3 linked regions of the Homo sapiens genome follow. The protein of the gene in region 3 purifies or fractionates together with the protein of the main gene of each other region. This does not show direct contact. Each region holds a gene or a part of one and is shown on either strand. Other genes may lie near its edges.

Region 1 (3,649 bases), on a different chromosome or scaffold from region 3:
TAAAGATGAGGAATGCACCATTTGGCAAGTTGGGCATCACTGGATAATAGCTTTAGCTTCTTTCCAGGTACTGTTATATCTGCATTTGAGACCAGAGGCATTAACATGGGTTAAATTGTGAAAGTGTCTAGCATTAGATATTGCAGTAGCAACTAGGCGATCAGCCATTTGATTCCCTTCAGTTAAAGGTCCTGGAAGAGGTGTATGAGCCCTAATGTGAGTGATGTAAAAAGGGTGCATTCTACTCCTAAATGCTGTTTGCAATTGGGTAAATAAAGTCATCAGTTGTTCATCTGTATGAAGTCATAACTGAGCATTTTCAATTAATTGTATGGAATGAACCACATAGGAAGAATCAGAAATCACATTAATAGGCATATCAAAAGCAGTCAATACCTCAATTACAGCTAAAGCTCCACTTTTTGAGCTGAAGTATAGGGCGTGTGAAAAACTTTACCTTTTGATCCAGAATAAGAGGCTTTACCATTACAAGACCCATCTGTAAAAACATTCTCAGCACCTTCAGTTGGTTTAAATTTAGTTATTTTGGGGAGAATCCAATTAGTTAATTTCAAAAATTGAAATAATTTCATTTTAGGAAAATGATTATCAAGAATACCCACAAAGTCAGCTAAATGGGTTTGCCAAGTAAGACTATTTATAGAAGCTTGCTGTATTTGTGCCTTTGTGAGAGGGACAATAATTTTTCCAGGATCATATCCATGTAATTTAACAATCCGAATTCTCCCATTTCTTATCATCGTAGCCATTTGATCCAAATAAGGAGTTAGAGTCTGTGAATTAGTATGTGGAAGAAAAAGCCACTGTACAAAGTCTTGCTCTTATACAATAACACCAGTAAGTGAATGCTGAGTTGGAAAAATTAGCAAATCTAGGGTCTTTTTTGGATCTATTCTATTTATTTGAGATTTATGGATTTGCTTTTTGATTAGCTGCAGCTCTGCCTCAGCTTCTTTTGTTAATTGCTGAGGGCTAATGAGACTAGGATCTCCTCTAAGGATAGAAAATAGATTACTCAGGGCATAGGTGGGAATGCCTAGAGCAGGTCATATCCGATTAATGTCCCCTAGTAATTTTTGAAAGTCATTTAATGTTTTCAATTGATCCCTACGTATAGTTACTTTCTGTGGCACAATGGTAGTGTCATTTACTAAGGTCCCCAAGTAGGAGTAAGGAGTAGTAGTCTGAATTTTGTCAGGAGCTATATAATTAAACTGGCATGAGAAATCGAGTTTTGCAAGTGATCATAACATTGGAGTAATATTTCTTGAGTGGGGGCAGCACAAAGTATATTATCCATATAATGAATAATGTAACACTGTGAAAATTTTTTACGAGTAGGTTCAATTGCTTGCCCTTCATAAGTCTGGCAAATTTTTGAACTGTTTCACATGCCTTGTAGCAACACTTTCCAATACAAATGCTTTAGTATGCTGCAGGTTTTTTACTGCAGGAATTGTAAATGCAAACAGTTCACAGCCTTGCTCAGCTAAGGGGATAGTAAAGAAACAGTCTTTTAAATTTATGACTATTAAAGGCCAATTTTTTGGAATCATAGCAGAAGAAGGCAGTCCCGGCTGCAATGTCCCCATAGGTTGTATAACTGAATTAATGGCTCTTAAGTCAGTTAACATTCTGCATTTACCTGATTTTTTCTTAATTACAAAAACTGGAGAATTCCAAGGGGAAAATGTTGAGCTATGTGTCCTTTTTCTAATTGTTCAGCAACTAAGTCCTCTAAAGCCTCCAGTTTCTCTTTACTCAGCAGCCATTGTGCTATCCAAATTGGCTTATCTGTTAACCATTTTAAAGGTATATAGGTTCTGGAGGCTTAACAATGGCCACCATCAAAAATGATATCCTAAACCTTGGTGGGAACTTTGTCTTTCCGCTTGAAGCATTTCCTTCAAAGCTTGCAAATTTTTTCCTAGTCCCATACCAGGGACATACCCCATTTCATGCATCATATGTTGACTTTGAGGGCTGTATAATTATTCTGGAATTAGAACTTGTGATCCCCATTGTTGTAATAAATCTCTTCCCTATAAATTTATAGGTACAGAAGTTATAATTTTTTGTATAGTCCCAGGTTGTCCATTGGGCCCTTCACAATGCAAAATATAACTACTTTGATATACTTTAAGGGCTTTACCAACTCCAACTATGTTAAATTGAGCAGGTTGAATTGACCATGCAGATGGCCAGTGCTGTACAGAAATGATTGAAATGTCCGCTCCTGTATCTACCAAACTTTTAAATTTCTTTCCCTGAATAGTTATTTCACCAGTAGGATGTTTATCAGTAATTTGATTCACCCAATAAGCTGCTTTGCCTTGTTTATTTGTGCTTCCAAATCTTCCTGTTCATTTAATTTCACTTTTCCCCATTTCCACATATGGCATAATCAGGAGCTGTGCTATATGCTCTCCTGGCTCTGCTTTCCAGGGAACAGAAGTAGATATAACAATTTGAATTTCCCCTTTGTAATCTGAATCAATGACTCCTGTTTGTACTTGCACGCCTTTTAAATTTAAACTAGACCTACCTAGAAGTAATCCTACCATCCCCGCTGGCATCATCTGACTGGAGACAGCAACCTTCTTTAACAGTCCCATTACAAAAGGAGAACCTGTTCCATATGGATTAATAGCTTGTTTAAATTCTTTGAGTAATTTAAAAGGAAAAGGCTCAAATGTAGCTATAATATTTCCCTGTTGATCTACGGGGTATATTCTAACAGGGAACTGCTAAGCCTCTATATCACCCTCTCTTCTAACTTGCTGAATTCCTGGCTGAATAGAACTGAGAGTGGTCGCTCGAGGTGCTGCTCAGTCACTGGGGCGACTACTTTTTGCCCAGTGTCCTCTGGAAAAGAAAGATCTGGAGGATCAGGCTACTCTTTTGCTTCGAAATAATGAGGGGGTGCAGAAGGGTAGGGACAAACCTCTCCCTCCTTTGCCACTTTAGCTTTAGCTGGCAAACAAACCTGCTCTGTCACCTCTTCTGTTACTTCATTATACTTTCCTTCCTCCTCATCTTTAGTGTGAAAAGGTTCCAAGGTGGAATGAGCTAGAGCCCACACTTGCCCATTGTTACCCTGATGCTTCCGAGCTCCCCTTCTTACTCACCATGGGGATTGCTTAAGAGTACTCGGGTATCCTCCAGCTTTGTTCCACGTTTTCCAACCATTGCTCCAGCGAGCCTTCATCCTGGGTTTGAGTCCCCACGTTGGGCGCCACTTGCCGAGACCAGCTCGGTCGTGGAGACCCTAACCCAGCAGTGCTAGAGGAATTAAAGACACACACACAGAAACATAGAGTGTGGAGTGGGAAATCAGGGGATTCACAGCCTTCAGAGCTGAGAGCCCTGAACAGAGATTTACCCACGTATTTATTGACAGCAAGCCGGTGATAAGCATTATTTCTGTAGATTATAGATTAACTAAAAGTATTCCTTACAGGAAACAAAGGGATGGGCCAAAACAAAGCGATGGGCTCTGGCTAGATATCTGCAGCAGGAACACGTCCTTAAGGCACAGATCGCTCATGCTATTGTTTGTGGCTTAGGAATGCCTTAAGTGGTTTTCCATCTTGGGTGGACCAGGTGTTCCTTGCCCTCATTCCAGTAA
Region 2 (3,649 bases), on a different chromosome or scaffold from region 3:
TTTTTGTATTTTTAGTAGAGACAGGGTTTCACCATGTTGGCCAGGCTGGTCTCAAACTCCCGACCTCAAGTGATCTGCCCACCTCAGCCTCCCAGAGGTTTGGGATTCCAGGCATGACCCACCGCGCCTGGCCCTCAAAGTTCCATCTTCTAACCCAGTGGTCTCCCAAGTAGTCTTCCCCTAAGGGAAGCGCAGAATGATCCACTGAGGGTGGAAGTAAATATCAGAACTTTTATCCATGTTAATGTTTACAAAAACATGACGTTCCGTTAACGGTTACTATATGGACTGACTACGAGACATTCCCTGGGCCATGTTAAGTGGTCATGTGTTGAAGACAGGACACAGCAGGTATCCTGATGGGGTTGTGGGAAAGTTTCCATCACACAGAGAGGGCCTCAGCACCACTCTTCATTCATTCAGTCGTTTTCACTTTACTGCAACCTAATGCCTGAATGAGGTTATTGAGGTTCTAAAGCTTAAACGCTGAGGCCTCAAGCATTTAGAGTGGGGAGGACAAAGACGCAGTGGAGGAGACGAGGACTTCCAGGGTGAAGCTGGTGGACAGGAGGAAAACTACGAGAAGATGACAACGTAGAAGCTGAGCAAAGAAAGGAGAAAGTGGTCAGCTGGATCGAATGCTGCAAGCTTTCAGATGAAGACTGGATTTGACAGGGTGGGACTTTAGCAGAGTAGTTTCATTGGAGGAGGGAGGAAAACAAAAGCCCAATAGGAGGCGTTTAAGATAGAGTAGGAGGTGAAGAAGCAGAGATAGTGAGTCATGAGAATTCTTCCAAGGAGGCTGCTAAAAAGGGGGCACAAAAAGTAGAGTAGTTGGAAGGGTATGTGGAATCAAGCAGCTTTTTTTAAAATATGGGAGATATCACATATTTAAATGCTGATTGAAATAATCCAGTAAAGAGGAGAAATTTGATAACAAGATAATGTGTAATTGTAAACATAAAGTGTTACAGGAAGTCAGGGACCCCGAACAGAGGGACCAGCTGAAGCCACGGCAGAAGAACATAAACTGTGAAGATTTCATGGACATTTATTAGTTCCCCAAATTAATACTTTTATAATTTCTTACACCTGTCTTTACTGCAATCTCTGGACATAAATTGTGAAGATTTCATGGACATTTATCACTTCCCCAATCAATACTGTTATAATTTCCTATGCCTGTCTTTAATCTCTTAATCCTGTCATCTTTGTAAGCTGAGGATGTATGTTGCCTCAGGACCCTGTGATGATTGAGTTATCCGTACAAACTGTAAAACATGTGTCTTTGAACAATATGAAATCTGGGCATCCTAAAAAAGGAAGAGGATAACAGCAATTTTCAGGGAACAAGGGAGATAACCATAATGTCTGACTGCCTGCGCGACTGGGCAGAAGAGAGTCATATTTCTCTTCTTGCAGAAAGCGAATAGGAGAAATATCACTGAATTCTTTTCCCAGCAAGGAATAACCCTGGGAAAGGAATGCATTCCCAGGGGGAGGTCTCTAAAATGGCCGCTCTGGGAGTGTCTGTCTTATGCAGTTGAAGATAAGGGATGAAATACACCCTGGTCTCCTGCAGCACCCTCAGGCTTGCTAGGATTAGGAAATTCCAGTCTGGCAAATTCTAGTCAAACTGGTTGTCTGCTCTCGTACCCTGTTTCCTGTTAAGATGTTTATCAATGACAGTGCGTGCCCAGCGGGACATGGAACCTCATCAGTAATTCTAATTTTGCCCTGGCCTTGTGATCTTGCTCTGCCATTTGCATTGTGATACCGTATTGCCTTTTGAAGCATGTGATCTCTGTGACCCACTCCCTATTTGTACACTCCCTCCCCTTTTGAAATCCCTAATAAAAACTTGCTGGTTTTGCAGCTCAAGGGGCACCACGGAACCTGTCAACAAGTGATGTCACCCCCAGAGGCCCAGCTGTAAAATTTCTCTTTGTACTCTTTCTCTTTATTTCTCAGACTGGCTGACACTTAGGGAAAATAGAAAAGAACCTATGTTGAAATACTGGGGGCTGGTTCCCCCGATAATAAAGTCTTTGAAAACTGTGCCCAATAGGAAGAGGACCAGTTTTTCCTTGTAACAAGAGATATGGCAGACTACAGGGTATGATGCAGATTGGCAGACAGGTAGGTAGGTAGATAGATCTGGTGGTAGGAAGATGAAGAAAGAAATTCTGTTATTAACCAGCTTCTATTTTCATAGTTAAAAAAAAAGAAAAATAAAATCAGATAAGAACAAGGAAAGAGAGACGGGATACTAAAAGTTCAAGGAAAACAAGGTTGTGAGCTGCTTCAGAGAGCAGGAGAGAGAATTCCTGAGGGAAATAGAGCAGAGCTGCCGGAGGTGCTAAGCACCACACAACGTTTGTAAACACATATTTGAAGTGTGACCAGTTAGCAGGGGGATACATTTTTCTCCAGCCACACTGTGTTACTCATGTTCAGGTGAAGAGCAGGCAGAGAATAACCAGGGCTGGGATTTTTCCAGAGTACTGAGGAGAAAAAGGCAAGGGAGATAGATGAGGGCGTCCATTATAGAGTGCAGCAGTGGACCTCATGGATGGAATCTAAGCTAGTTAAGAATGAGATGAATCTAAATCAACAACACTTCTATTTAATAGCAATTCAAAAACCCTTTTGCTCTCAATTAAAAATTATTAATATTTTAGATATTTAATTTTTAAACATCTTGCCAACTGTGATGGCTTCTTCAGATCACTAAATGTCACCAACATTCACCTTGTTACACAGGCCAAAAGTCTGATGGCCTGTGACTTGATGACTTTTTCACAGTACAACAGCAAAAGCCGTTCTCCTTTGAAAATATACTCTGGACCTAACTACTTCTCAGCACCACTACGACCCCAGGGCTTGTGCTTGCACCATTCCATTGCTCATCCTTTGTTATCTACTTTTCCACTCAGAAGCCAAAGAACTTCCAATTTAAATCAGCTGAAGCCCTTCCTTTCAACCATTCAACGCCTCTTGGTCACACCTGGAAAAAAAATCCACATCCTGGCCATGGCCCGTAAGATCCCACATGACCCAGCTCCCGGGTTGCTCTCTGATCCACTCTCCACCTCTCTGCCATGCCCAGCCACACTGGCCTCTGTCACACTCTTCAGTCTTGCCAAGCACACTGGCATCTCAGGACCTTTGTGCCTGCTGTCCCTGGAAAAGTCTCTCCTCAAAAGGTTCATGCAATTTGCTCTCATTTCATTCAGATCTTGGCTCAAATGTCAATTCCTCACAGAAACCTTCCCTGACCATCCATCTAAAAACACCAATATGCCAGGACCTTTTCTCCTTTCTTGGCTTCACTTTTCTTCAAAGCACTTTTCATTACCTCCTATTACAATCCTATTTTTCTGTCTTCCCCAAGAACGTAATGTCCACGAGGGATTTTCTGTTTTGTTCACCATTGTGTCCCAGGTGCCTACAATAGTGCATTTCACATGTGGTAAGCATCAATAAATATTTATTCAATAAATGAGTCGTTTTTTAGTCTTCTTTTTGTGCATTTAAAAAATATATTTACCCAGTAGTACAAGAATATAATTTATAAATAAAAAATATACTAGGGAGACACACTCAAACATTTTTTACCGAAGGGGTATATAGTAAAAAGGAAAGAAAA
Region 3 (4,329 bases):
GTCCCTTCAAGCTCCATGGTCCTGTAAGTCCAGGAATAGTAGAAGGATCTAAAGAGAAGAGCCTTGGAGAGAGGGGGCAAGAGACGGTATGAGAGCTGATACACAGAGGAGAGAGTACTAGTCTTTCTTCACCCAGCCACAGACTTGGCCACTTGGGAAAGTCACTCACGGATCCTCTCTTTCCTCTCTCTCACGTGTAAATACACAAGATGCCATCAGGGGCCTAGAGAATTTTGTGGAATAGGCCAAGTCCATTTCATTTTATCTTCCTACCCAAGGTCCTTTCAAAGACAGGGAGCCTAACTTCTCCTGGATTTCAACAAGCAGACATCTTTCAGAAAACAATATAGACTAATGCTTCCCCTTCAGTGGAAGGGAATTTAAGAATTAGGCCATAAAAAGGAACGAAGTACTGATATAAGCTACAGTGGGATGAACTTTGAAAATATTATGCTGTACAAAGGAAGCCAGTCACCAAAGACCACATACTATGTGATTCCATTCATATACAAGCCCAGAGTAGAGAAATCTATAGAGGCAAAGTAGATCTTAGGGCTGGGAGAGGAGAGGAGAATAAAAGGTTGATACCTAAAGCATACAAGGTTTCTTTCTGAGGTGATGAAAATGTCCCAAAATTGACTGTGGTGATGGCTACACATATCTGTAAAGATACTAAAAACCACTGAATTGTATGCTTTAAATGGATGAATTGTATGGCATGTGAATTATATCACAATAAAGCTGCTTTTAAAAGAAAAGAAGAACATACAGAAGGGTGGCTGGATGACTCCAAAGCCCACAGCACCTTGGCGAGCGGCATTGCTCTCACCACTGTGATCTTCCCCCATGGGTCCTTGTACTTCCAAACCTCAGGGAACCCGAGGGACTCCAGAGACCCAACTCTCAATTACAGCACCTGGAGTGGTGTCTCGCCACAGAAGACGCAGACAGCAAGACAGTTTGACAGCTCTAACCATTACAAACACCTGCAGAAGCTGCTACAGAGCCCATAAATAGCCCCAGGTTTGCCCACCGGACTAGGGTCCCCCTCTGAACTGGAGCTCGCCTTCCTAGCTCCTTCGGCTGTGTCCACTGGAGAGAGGTACACAGGACGCTGGAAAAGAGGAAAAGAGAGGCCATTTTCTCAGACTCTTCCACCCAAAGGCCCTCCCAGTTTGCGGTTTCCTGGACTCAGCAGCCCAGGGCCTGTTCCTGACCATGGAAGGAGGAGGCGGCTTCACTGGTTTATTATCTGGCCTCATCTCCCTCTCCCCCACAGCCCACCTACTCCAGCCACTCTGGCCTACTCCCTTTCCTTTAACGCACCACATACACTCATTGCTTGGAGCACTCTTCCCCAAAGAGCCTCCTCCCCCTGGAAATCTTGGCTCAAATGTGCCTTTCTCCACCCTGGCCACCTCATTTGAAAATCCTAACCCCAGTCTCCCTCACCCTTCTTTATCGTTTTCCCATAACACATGTCATACCAGAGATTTTCCTTATTAAGTGTATATTACCTGCTATTACTAGGCCTCCTTATTCACAACACAGCTTCTTTTAGCCTCCAGAGCCCAGCTGGAGAGCCAGGAGGCTGTGATTAACTACCTTCCCATCCCCTTTAATGAGCCTGTAGTACATGGAACAATCACTCCTGGCCTTTTCTACCTCTGCTTCCGAAGCACCCTTACCAGACCCTCAGAGGATCTGGGGAGAGCTGGCTCTTCATTCCAGTGTTTGCTCACCTCCTGTAAGAACAGTGCCTTCTCCTGGCCACCTAGATTTTCTTTTTCAAGGGGCACCTGCAACCTGTTTTCACAGGTTATCCCTACTAAAACATCATAAAGTGGGCTGGGAAAATACAAGTAAACCCATTTGTAAACACTGTAACTCTACCTCCTCTCATCTAGTAATTCCTTGTTTACTTATTGCTTTCCTCTACAGGACCATAAACTCCTGGAGAGCAGAGACTAGGTGTTTCCTGCCCACCATGGAGAACATATTAGGTGCACAGTATCCATTGGAGTGCAATAGTAAGGACTCATTAATTGTCTCCGTTATCATCATTATGTGGCTTGTCCTGGATCTCCGTCAGTGAGCGACTTGCCAAGTGTGTACACCCATGAACCAGAAGGCAACCCAAGACCAGCCAGAAAAGACGCTTGGCACCCTTTGATGAGTACATTTACCCAGTGACCGCCAACTCTCCCCATTCCCCAAAGTTCTGCAAAGGACGCAGGAAAAGTAAAGTTCAAGGAATAGTGTTCCTAGATCCCTAGCAAAGTTCTAGACCCAAAACACAAAGCCTGGGAGGGGTGGAGGAACGGGGCTTGGGGAACTGTCCCAAGGGCCTCCCCGGCTGATCTCTCCGCACCACCTAGGACTGCCTGAGCGCCCCCTGTGGGTCCACGGAGCCCAGGAGACGCGTTTGGCCCTGTAGACCATCCACATCGCCCGCCCTCCGCTTCTCTCAACTCGCCTCTCGCTTCAGAGTCGGAGGGACAGGGGAAGCGACGCTCAGACACTCCTAGGGCCAGAGGTGGAGGGAGCGAAGGAGACCCTGAAGAAGTGGGAGGGGGTCGGGCCAGGCAGGGGCTGAAGAGAATCGCGCCACAGGCTGGGACGGGAAACGTGGGAAAGTTGGAGTGGGAAGTTTGCGACAGGGAACATAGAAAAGAGCAGAAAGAGGGCAAGATCCCCGCACAGAGGACGCAAACAGAAGCAAGCGGGGGAGCGCGCCTCAAGGGATGCGGGGTACGAGAGAGGGGCCGGGAGCCCGGGGACCCGCGGCGCCTGCCTACCCACCTGAGGCTGCCATGCCGCGGGGCGCCGCTCACATCCCTGGCTCGCTGCGTGCCCGGGGCCGGGACCGGGGCCGGCGGCGTCCTGGCTCGGGCTGGAGGGGCGCCGGGCTCCGCGCGGGACCGGCCGCCGCTCTGGCGCTTCCTCCCTCAGGGCAGCCCGGCCTCGCCACGAGGGCGTGTCCACAGAGTCCGCCCCGCCTGCGGGACTCGGCCCGCGGCACCTGCACCCGCGGCCGTTGGGGAGGGGAAGTGAGAACCCCATGCCGGCCGCCGGCCAGCTCCCCCCACGGCCCCCTGCTCAGGGGCAGCGAGAAGGCGGGGGCTTCGCGCCACGTGCGCCCCACTCCTCGGGAAACCAGCCCTGATCTGCCACCAAAGGGCAGCCCGAGGTGGAGGGGGTGTGGGGAGGAGGCGGAGGGGGAGAGTGTGGGGCTGCCAGGCCTCTGGGAGACAGGGCGGGGGTGTGTGTGTGTGTGAGCACCAGCTGTCCAAGCCACCTCCTCATCGCCTGGGGCTTTGTCCCTAAGCCCCTGCTGCCCCAGCAGGAAAGGGGAGGGGACAGGAAGGGGAAGAGGAGGAGGGCTGGGCACCTGGCCCTGGGTGCTCGGCGTTGCCCTTGAGTGCCCTCCTGTGATCTTTCTGCCGTTCCTTGGATCTGGTCTCCTGATGGCACATGAACATTAATTATAATGTCACATGATAAATGTCTAATAGAGTTTCTCTGCCATTCATTTCCTGTGTTCCTGTCTGCTGGGCGCTGCGTTTAGCACCTTACACACATTATCGCATTGCATCCTCACAGCAACCTTCTGAGGTAGCACCTATCACTGTCTTTACATTGGAGCCAAAGAAACAAGCCAAATACCTTGCTCAGGCTTCCACAGAGAACAAAAGCTCCCGGAGGTTCAGTACCAAGCCAGTCTGCTTCCAGAGCTAGAACTCTTGCTTAACCCTTGCCTTCACCTGCCCTCTTCTTGGACTCCTCCCTTTGCCTGCTGCCGAAATTCAACTGAATAGCACATCCCCTTGGAGTTCTCAACAATCCAGGGGCCAGAAGATGGACCCAGAGAGCAGAGATGAGGCAAGGTTAGGGCTGAAGTCCAGGTGGAAATAAAATGAAATGGATTTAAGAACGGGAATATCAGGATGAGGCCGTGCATTCATTTTCTTCTGTTGCCATAATAAATTACTACAAATTTAGTGGCTTAAAACAACACCAACTTATCATTTTACAGTTCTGTAGCTCAGAAGTGTGACATGAGTCTCCATCGGCTAAAATCAAGGTGGTGGCTGGGCTGGGTTTCTTTCTGCCAAATAGAAGGGAATCAATTTCCTTGGCTCTTTCAGCTTCTAGAAGCCATCCACATTCCTTGGCTCATGGCCTCCTTGTTCTATCTTCAAAGCCAGATGGCCCTGCTTCTGTCATCATATCCCTTTCTCTGACTCTCTTCTGTCTCCCTCTTCCAGTTTTAAGGATCCTAGTGGCCGGGCGCGGTGGCTCACGCCTGTAATCCCAGCACTTTGGGAG

Evidence for each region.
Region 1: the proteins of PIK3AP1 (region 3) and TLR2 purify together in Homo sapiens (affinity purification with western blotting, with the first as the bait; one study listed by BioGRID). This does not show direct contact.
Region 2: the proteins of PIK3AP1 (region 3) and SCCPDH purify together in Homo sapiens (co-immunoprecipitation; one large-scale study listed by IntAct). This does not show direct contact.

Annotation. Positions count from the first base shown.
Region 1 is NC_000004.12:153,690,658-153,694,306, forward strand, and holds part of TLR2 (toll-like receptor 2 precursor), read left to right. Parts: intron 1-3,649. UniProt on the Homo sapiens protein: Cooperates with LY96 to mediate the innate immune response to bacterial lipoproteins and other microbial cell wall components. Cooperates with TLR1 or TLR6 to mediate the innate immune response to bacterial lipoproteins or lipopeptides.
Region 2 is NC_000001.11:246,727,261-246,730,909, reverse strand, and holds part of SCCPDH (saccharopine dehydrogenase-like oxidoreductase), read right to left. Parts: intron 1-3,649.
Region 3 is NC_000010.11:96,717,580-96,721,908, forward strand, and holds the start of PIK3AP1 (phosphoinositide 3-kinase adapter protein 1), read right to left. Parts: upstream 2,936-4,329; 5' UTR 2,816-2,935; coding exon 2,803-2,815; intron 1,115-2,802; exon of another isoform or gene 1,034-1,114; intron 1-1,033. UniProt on the Homo sapiens protein: Signaling adapter that contributes to B-cell development by linking B-cell receptor (BCR) signaling to the phosphoinositide 3-kinase (PI3K)-Akt signaling pathway.